Regions from separate parts of the Homo sapiens genome. Here region 2 is linked to region 1. The links come from fine-mapping of genetic effects on plasma protein levels. A gene starts in region 1. The other region holds a variant in brackets. All regions are shown on one strand. Distances are between the middles of the regions. Region 1 holds the start of B4GALT5 (beta-1,4-galactosyltransferase 5). Region 2 overlaps B4GALT5 (beta-1,4-galactosyltransferase 5).

Region 1 (4,522 bases):
ATGCCTTCCTAGAGGAACACTTTTCGTGATGACACTTTGTAAACAAGGCAATCTGATGCTGCCTGTTCTATCTTCCCAGATCTAGTTGATAGTTCAAAACATCAACATTAACCACAAGTAAAATATGCTTAAAAAATAATCAGGAGACGATCTCCTGCTCTATCTGGAAATTTCTCTATTCAGCTAGTTCTGCGTTGACAGGTCAACAGAGAATGGCACTAGTTATTGCTACAATCCTAAAAGGCATTTCCCTACAGCTAAACCATCAACCCTTTCCTAAAATCCATATAATCCAAAATTTTTCTAGCAGAATTTACTCTCCCTGCCCCTACCCCAGCAGCATCTTCTGATCATTTTTCACCATAAACTGAGGTTTCCTCATAGTGATGCCAAGTCAGGCAAACACATTCCTTAAGCGTTCCACCTAACTCCCTTCTTCCTGGAAGTTACATGTAATAGCTGCCTTTATTTACTTATTTTTAAAACTCTTCAAGCACCAGGTACAGTGGTAAGTGCTTTTAAAGAACATGTATCTACTTCCATCCTTAACACTGTATGAGATTGGGACTCACATTCCCATTTTACAGAGGAGAAATGCAAAGGCTTAGTAACCTGCCCAAGGTCATACAGGGCAGAGATTGGAATCCAAGTCTGACCTCTGTGTCCTCCGCTCTTAACCTTCATGCTGTCTTTCCTTCTGATCTCTTCCTGTCCTAACTGGTGCCCTGTGGTCTTATAAAAGACTATGCTTGGGGCAGGCGGGGGAGGGGTGGGAGGGTCAGTTTCTCCAGAGACCGCCTTTCCTTTAAAGGATAAGACTTTGAAAAGAAGGAGTACCCATTACATCTTTCCTCCATGCTCCCCCTTCTCACCTGGTACCATTTCCCAAAGGCCCCAATCATATCCCCTTCTCTACGGACAATTTAAACTTCTCCTTTGTCCGCAGAGCAGGCACTATCCAATACTGAAGAACCACACCATCTACCCTCAAGGCTAGGAGAGGGCAGAAGTGGAAGAAAGAACACAGACAGCACCCCTTCCCCAGGTCTTCAGTTGAGAAAGAAGCTGTGGCTGAAAGTCTGGGGGGCTGGGGGCAAAGGTGACAAGGATGTGCCCTTGTGGGTACGCGAGGTGGGGGGGGGGGAGATGGGGAAGAGGCATGGGACGCTCAGGGGATTAGCAGGAGATTGAATGGGGGTGGACCTCTGTAAGGGGAAGGGGGGTGCCACCGGCAGGCAGAGAGATCAGGCCACTGAAGAGGTGAACGTGAGTTAGGGAGGAGGACCTGGAGGTGGATGTAATAGGGGAAGTAGAGGAAGAAAGGGGAGGGAGGGGGCTCACGGGAGCAGGAAACGATGGAGTCATGGGGAGTGGGGGAGGATGGATGGGAGCTAGAAGGTGGGGCGGCCTGGGACCCGGGCACATGGGCTCGGCGAAGAGCGGGCGCGCCGCGGGGGACTGGGGTGCGGGGAATGCCGGGAATGGGGGTTCGAGGAGACCCCGGGGAAGGGAAGGGGAAGCGGGAGTTCTCGAGCAGAGGAGCGGGAAGTGGGAGTTCCAGCGAGGCAAGAGCGGGAAGGGGGTTCCGGAGCAAGGGGCGGGCGTGAAGGTACAGTCGGGTTCGCGAGGGTGGCGTTAGGAGGGGCGGGGTGGGCCGGAGGCTGGCGCGGGAGAGGGATCCCGGGCGCCTGTTGGGGTGCGGAGGGCAGGAATGTCCTGGCGTCCCCGAGAGCCGGGCCAGGACTCCGGAGTCTTCGGAGGACCAGGCTCAGGGCCGCCTCCCGGCCGGGGCCCCTTAGGGAGGGGCGGGGATTCCCCGGGTCCCTCAAGGCCAGAGCGGCAGCCGCCGCGGTCCCAAGCCCCCTTCCTACCTATGCCGGGCGCCACATAGACGAAGTACAGCAGCGAGGACGAGAGAGAAAAGAAGAAGAGCGCGGCGAGCAGCGAGCGGCGCGGCAGCCGCAGCAGCCCCCGGCGGGCGCGCATGCTGCAGCCAGGCGGCCGCTAGAGAGCCAGGCCGGGCCTGCTCCCGCAGCTCCCCGTCCGCCGCCTCCTGGGCCGCCGCCGCCACCGCCTGGGCCTCGGCCACCGCCTCCCGGGCCTCGCGGGCCGCCACTCGCCGCCGCCGCCGCCTCGCCGCTCCCAGCCGCCGGCCGTCGCGGGCCGGGCCACATGAAGCGGGCGGGGGCCAGAGCGGCCCCGAGCGGGCGCAGCGGCGGGGGCGGAGGCGGGGCGCACGCGCGGGAGGCGGGGCCAGTGCCGCCGGGCACCGTCGCAAAAGACCCGCGCGCTTGCGCTCGCCGCCGACCCTCGCTCGGCGCCCACAGCAGCCCGCATGGAGTAATCGCCAAATGGCGACAGACCCTCTCCCAGTGCGGCCACCGCCCAGGCTTTCGGGGAATGTCTCCCAAGTGCTCCGCGCTAGCTCGTCCCCCATCTCGGGGGCCAAGGGGCCATCTACAAAGTCTGACTCATCTCGTTGCCCACTGCAGCAGAAGAGTGGGGACTGCAAGGCTTGGGGGTTCGGCCTGGTATACACCCTCATTCATTCATTCATTCATTCATTCAATTCACCATTTATTTATTGAATGCCAGACACAGTTGTTGGCGCTGGGCATGCTACAGAGAAAAAAAACGATAAAAATCTCTGTCTACTTGAAACTTACATTATGTGAGAGATAAAAGAAACAAATCAGCTAGTAATATCAGGTACTGGTAACACATATGAATACGATAAAACAGGAGGATGTATTGCAGGCAGGCTGGAGTGGTCAAGGAAGGCCTCACTGAGCAGTGACACGAACTGAGATATAAAAGGGTGAGAAAGCGCCAGCTTTTTTGAATAAGCTGGGGAAAAAGCAGTCATACCAGGGGGAACAGCAGGTGTAAAGGCCCTGAGGTAGGAAAAGGGCTGATCTGCCCCCGAGTTGAATCCAAGGCCAACATGGATAAAATCCAGTGAAGTAGGGGGGGAAATAGGGATGAGCTTGGAGCTGTAGTCAGGGATCCTACTGTATCAGAAATAGCATAATGATAACAATTGTCAATGTCTCTAGACTTCTGCTGAGAAACATGGACTTCACTCATGCCATGAAATTCCCCCACCAGTCTTGAGATGTGTGCTGTTATTATTACTATCATACAAATGAGGAAACTGAGGTTTCTAGATGGAAAGGCAATTCACCCAAGCCTTGCAGTAAGGGCTTAAATCAAAACTGGCCTGTCTCCCATGTCAGGCCCTTGACCTCTAGGTTGTAACTGTCTCAGCAGTCTGTATGACCTCTAATTCTTATCCTGCAGGCAAATCGGTATCCTATCCCCATCACCTGGGTATGGGACCATATCCAAAAAAATGCTTTCAGATCAGCATCAGCTCAAAGGACCTCAGAAGGCAATGAACAGTCCTAGAAATTTATGGCAAGAAGCAGTAGCCTCAAGGAGCTGGACTGAGGAGGCCAGTGTCCCTGTGTAGACATATCTGAAACTAGGGTACTGTCTTGGAATGCCAGAAGCAGTGGGGAGGGGAGAGGACTTTGCAGGGATTCTGTGAGAATCAACAATAATTCTGATTTATATTCCTAAAGTGATTTCTACTTTTTACAGTGTTTCTTTGATCCTTTAAGTGGGGAGTCTAGAGCCACACTGCCCAGGTTCTCTGACTCCCAGCTTTTCCATTGTTAGCTGTGTGACCTCACGCAAGTTAAACTCTCTGTGCCTCGGTAAAATGGAGGAGGTTATTAGCAACCTCATCAGGTTGTTGCGAGGATTTAAGTAATACATGCAAAGTGCACATAGTAAGAGTGCTTAGCTGTCACCTAATTCAATACCCCTGGAGAATGGTATGGTGGAAGAGAAGAGGCTTAAACGATCAAAAAGGAAAGCAGAGAATTTTGACTCAGATAGATGTGAGTTCAAATCTCGGCTTGGCATCTCCTGGCTGTGTGACTCTGGGAAAGTCACTTACCTCTCTGAGCTTCTCTATTCATCACCTGTGAATCGGACCCAGTGCTGCCCACCCCACGGGGATGTGATGTGGATTCGATGAAATAGTGCAGGTAAGGCCCTGGACCAGAAATCCCAGACTAGCCGGAATCATCTAACTTGCAAATAGTTTTTGTTGGCCCACACAATGGCCCCTCCCAACCCTCGTATCTATGAAACATTTTCAAACATACAGAAAAGTTGAAAGAATAGTACAAGAAACATCTGTACACTCCCCACCTGGATTTGATCATTGTTATCATTTTTCCACATGTATGTATCTATATTCATATGTTGAAAATTTTTATTTTTTGCTAAATATTTAAAGGTAGGCTGGGCGATTACACCTGTAATCCCAGCACTTTGGGAGGCAAAGGCAGATGGATCGCTTGAGCTCAGGAGTTTGAGATCAGTCTGGCCAACATGGCAAAACTCCATTTCCACAAAAAATACAAAAGAATTAGCTGGGCGTGATGACGTGTGCCTATAGTCCCAGCTACTTGGGAGGCTGAGGTGGGAGGATCTCTTAAGCCCAGGAGGT
Region 2 (4,000 bases), 64 kb before region 1:
TTGAGGAGCCTCTGTTTTGCCATCTCTGGGGTTATTAAGTCTCCAGCTCTTGCCAGGATGGGGAAATGGGTCTGGGTATCTGACTGCTTTTTAACAGCTTTCAATCTCCCTTTATTTTAGTTGCCACCTTTGCTCCTACTTCCCATATTGCTAGTTCCTGAGCTTCTGGGGGATCCTGGGGTGGTTGCTGGTTCTCCTGTTGCTGCTTTGAGCAGTCAGTTTTCTTGGGTTTGTTAAGTCTTTTATCAGTGGTTCTTCTGCTTTCTACCTACCAAGGTTTTTTGCTGTGGTCTCCTTTTGTGTTCTCATTCTCAAGGGTTTATAATTTAAAAACCCTCACATATGTATGCCCCTTTAGAGTCACGTTAGTGGATATGAAGAGTGTGATGGCAGATGTCTTTTTCCTAGGGGACTGTACTTGTAGAGTAGGAGGAGGGTCCTCCAACCTCATTTTCTACAGATGAATAACTGGAACAACATACACAGAACTCAGACCAGGAGCCCTGGCTAATGCATGACAGAGCTCCAACTAAACTCTGAATGAGAGATCCTTCCAGTATACTGTATTGTTTTTATTTTTTTCACAGAATATTAAATCCTTTTGGATCCATGCTGATTCTATGAAAATTAAAACATCCTGTTCAAATTCACTTTGTACCCTAGAATTCTAGAATCTTCAACTAAGATATTTTTGAAAAAGCACTATGAGCAGGTTTCCAAGAATCAAATGGCTAACACATTGAATCCTTTTATATATGCACACGGCTGCCTACTCTGCGCTGCCTACTCTGCAAGTACTCTGGGGCAAAATTCAACGAGAGGCAACTTGAAAATTTTAACTGTGTCTTAACAAGGGAAGGAACAGAATGCTTTCTGTCCTTTTCAGTAGTAGCTTTCCTGAAAAACACTAAGCCTGCATTTATAGAGAATAGTAGAGACTAATTTATATAAAGACATAAACCAGGCTGGGTGGGGTGGCTCATGCCTATAATCCCAGCACTTTGGGAGACTGAGGCAAGAGGATTGCCTGAGCCCAGGAGGCCAAGACCAGCCCAGGAAACATGCTGAGAACCTGTCTCTACAAATAATTTTAAAAATTAGCCAGGCCTGGTGGTGCGCGCCTGTGGTCCCAGCTACTCGGGAGGCTGAGGCAGGAGGATCACCTGAGCCTGGGAGGTCGAGGTTCCGGTGGGCAATGATCACACCACTGTACTCCAGCCTGGGTGACAGAATGAGATCCTATCTTAAAAAAAAACAAAAACAAAAACATGAACCAAGACAGAACCTTAAAGATAATATTTACACAGAAATTCTCTGAGCTCAGCTCATACATGCAAACCTGGCCTGGGTTGAATCTTCTTCTGAAGGTAGTAACTACTTCAAAAATCTATGTGAAGAACCCCTCATCCTAATTATTACTCAGGATGAATCTAATAGATGAAATTATTCTCCTTTAGAAAAAAATTAAAAGACCTCACAAGTAATAGAAAATGTGCCTGTGTTTGTGATACGCCCATGTGTGGCAAGAGACGCTGGCTGGAAACATGTATTGGCACAGTCAATACATTCACTAGAAGGCAATGAAATTCCCAAAAGTATTACACTAAGTATATTTTCATAAACAAATCAACAAAAACGAAGATAATAATCATTCTGGTCAATGACTGACCCAAGCCCTAGAGCTAGAACCTAATCAGGAAACTAGAATTTAAAAAACATGAGGCAAGAGACAAGATATCACTAACTCTAATGATTCTACTATTTGGAGTTTCTTTGAAGATAGATAAATTCCTTTCTACTTCCTTCAAACAATGATACAGTAAGCCTGGTAGCACCTAGCATGAAACAAAAAAAAAGCATTTATTTTTCTTCTGATTACTAAATTAATAATATGTCACTGTTTTAAGAATCCTCAAATACGCAACAACTCTATTGCAAAAATCTTCCAGAAACTTACTCTACATCTTGGGAGGGGTGGCTTAATTTCCTGATTTCTTGTTTAAAAATTTTTAAATAAAACTTTAATTAAAATAAAGTCTACTTGGAAGGCCAAGGTGGGGTGCTCACTTGAGGTCAGGAGTTCGAGATCAGCCTGGCCAATATGGTGAAACCCCATCTCTGC[TAAA/T]AAAAAAAAAAAAAAAAAAAACACAAAAATTAGCCGGGCATGGTGGCAGGTACTTGTAATCTCAGCTACTCAGGAGGCTGAGGAAGGAGAATCGCTTGAACCCAGGAGGCAGAGGTTACAGTGAGCTGAGATCACACGGTTGCACTCCAGCCTGGGCAACAACAGCAAAACTCCATCATAAACAAACAAACAAACAAAGTCTGCTTTTCAGTAGCAATAGAGGCCTTTTAAAATGAAAGAGACAGAGGAAATTAATTGCTCACGACCTGGTAAAACTATGTGCAGTTATCGTGAGGAGCCCTTGTTTTTCTCCCCTGCTAGCTGTCCAGCAACGGGTGGGGTTATACCTTATCCCCTTGGAGTTCCAAATATAACTTCTTACTCTTCTAAAGCATGTACCTACTGAATGAGGAAAATGCTGAGAGAAAAACAAGCCTGTTGAATTTCTACAGCCACAGTTTTACTTTTTAATTTAAATCTAATCTATTTCAAACCTGGACATGTTCTTGAAGGGCAAAGAAGGCAGCTGCTTTTACATTTAGAAAATGGAAAAACAAGCCGGGCGCGGTGATCTCTGCATTTTGGGAGGCCAAGGCGGATGGATCACCCAAGGTCAGGAGTTCCAGACCAGCCTGACCAACATGGTGAAACTGTGTCTCTTACTAAAAATACAAAAAATTAGCCAGGCACGGTGGCATGCGCCTGTAGCTCCGGCTACTCAGGAGGCTGAGGCAGGAGAATTGCTTGAACTCAAAAGGTGGAGGCTGCAGTGAGCCGAGATCCCGCCACTGCACTCCAGCCCGGGCAACAGAGCGAGACTTTGTCTCAAAAAAGAAAATGGGAAAACAGGCCAGGCACAGTGGCTCACATCTGTAATCCCAGCACTTTGAGAGGCCAAGGCAGGTGGATCACCTGAGTTCAGGAGTTTGAGACCAGCCTGGCCAACATAGTGAAACCCTATCTCTACTAAAAATACAAAAATTAGCCAGGCATGGTGGTGGGTACCTGTAATCCCAGCTACTCAGGAGGCTGAGGTAGGAGAATCGCTTGAACCTGGGAGGCAGAGGTTGCAGCAAGCCAAGATCGTGCCACTGCACTCCGGCCTGGGCAACAGAGCGAGACTCCGTCTCAAAAAAAAAAAAGAAGATAGATAGATAGAAAATGGGAAAACAACAGACTCCTACCTACAGGTTCAAATGGCTACTGATATCATGGGCTTGCAGACCAACATTTCTGTCCAACAGCAACTGCTTATTCAGCATTGCTTCACACCAGTGGTTCAGCAGCCTTGGTTGCACATTGGAATCATCTAAGAAGCTTTCAAAAATCCTAACACCAGGCCGGGTGTGGTGGCTCATGCCTGTAATCCCAGCACTTTGGGAGGCCGAGGTGAGCAGATCACTTGAAGCCAGGAGTTTCAGACCAGCCTGGGCAACATGATGAAACCTCATCTCTACTAAAAATACAAAAATTAGCCGGGGGTGGTGGCACCCACCTGGTGTCCCAGCTACTCAGGAGGTTGAGGCAGGAGAATCACTTGAATCTAGGAGGCGGAGGTTGCAGTGAGCTGAGATGGTGCCACTGCAGTCCAGCCTGGGTGACAGAGCAAGACTGTCTCAAAACAAAAACAAACAAACAAAATTCTAACATTCAGGCTATACCTCAGGCCAATTAAATAAGAATCGCTAGCAGTCAGGCACAGACATCAGTACTTTGGAAACGTCCTTGGGAATTCCAATGTATAGCTAAGCTTGGTATTGCTACCCTAATACCTGGAGGAGGTAAAAACCTGCCTTCTCCCTTGTGTTACCAAATCCAGTTGAGAAGGAATCGAAAGTGCTGACCAATGGACCCCAGCAAGAATCACCACTTTCC

What was found. A credible set is the group of variants that fine-mapping cannot tell apart. PIP is the posterior inclusion probability: the model's chance that the variant is causal. Sun 2018 read protein levels with aptamers (SomaScan).
Region 2: its variant is the best candidate, but not a certain one, in a credible set for the plasma level of the B4GALT5 protein (Sun 2018, PIP 0.63).

What each region holds. Positions count from the first base shown.
Region 1 is chr20:49,711,705-49,716,226 of GRCh38, forward strand. It overlaps B4GALT5 (beta-1,4-galactosyltransferase 5), which reads right to left and starts at 2,174. Exons shown (of 9, transcript NM_004776.4): 1 at 1,872-2,174. The coding sequence starts at 1,986. RefSeq lists silencers at 1,647-1,766, 2,057-2,386.
Region 2 is chr20:49,648,334-49,652,333 of GRCh38, forward strand. All of the region lies in intron 2 of B4GALT5 (beta-1,4-galactosyltransferase 5), which reads right to left. Among named protein-coding and RNA genes, the nearest start is that of B4GALT5, 64 kb to the right of the region's middle. The variant TAAA/T (reference allele first, on the strand shown) is at 2,123.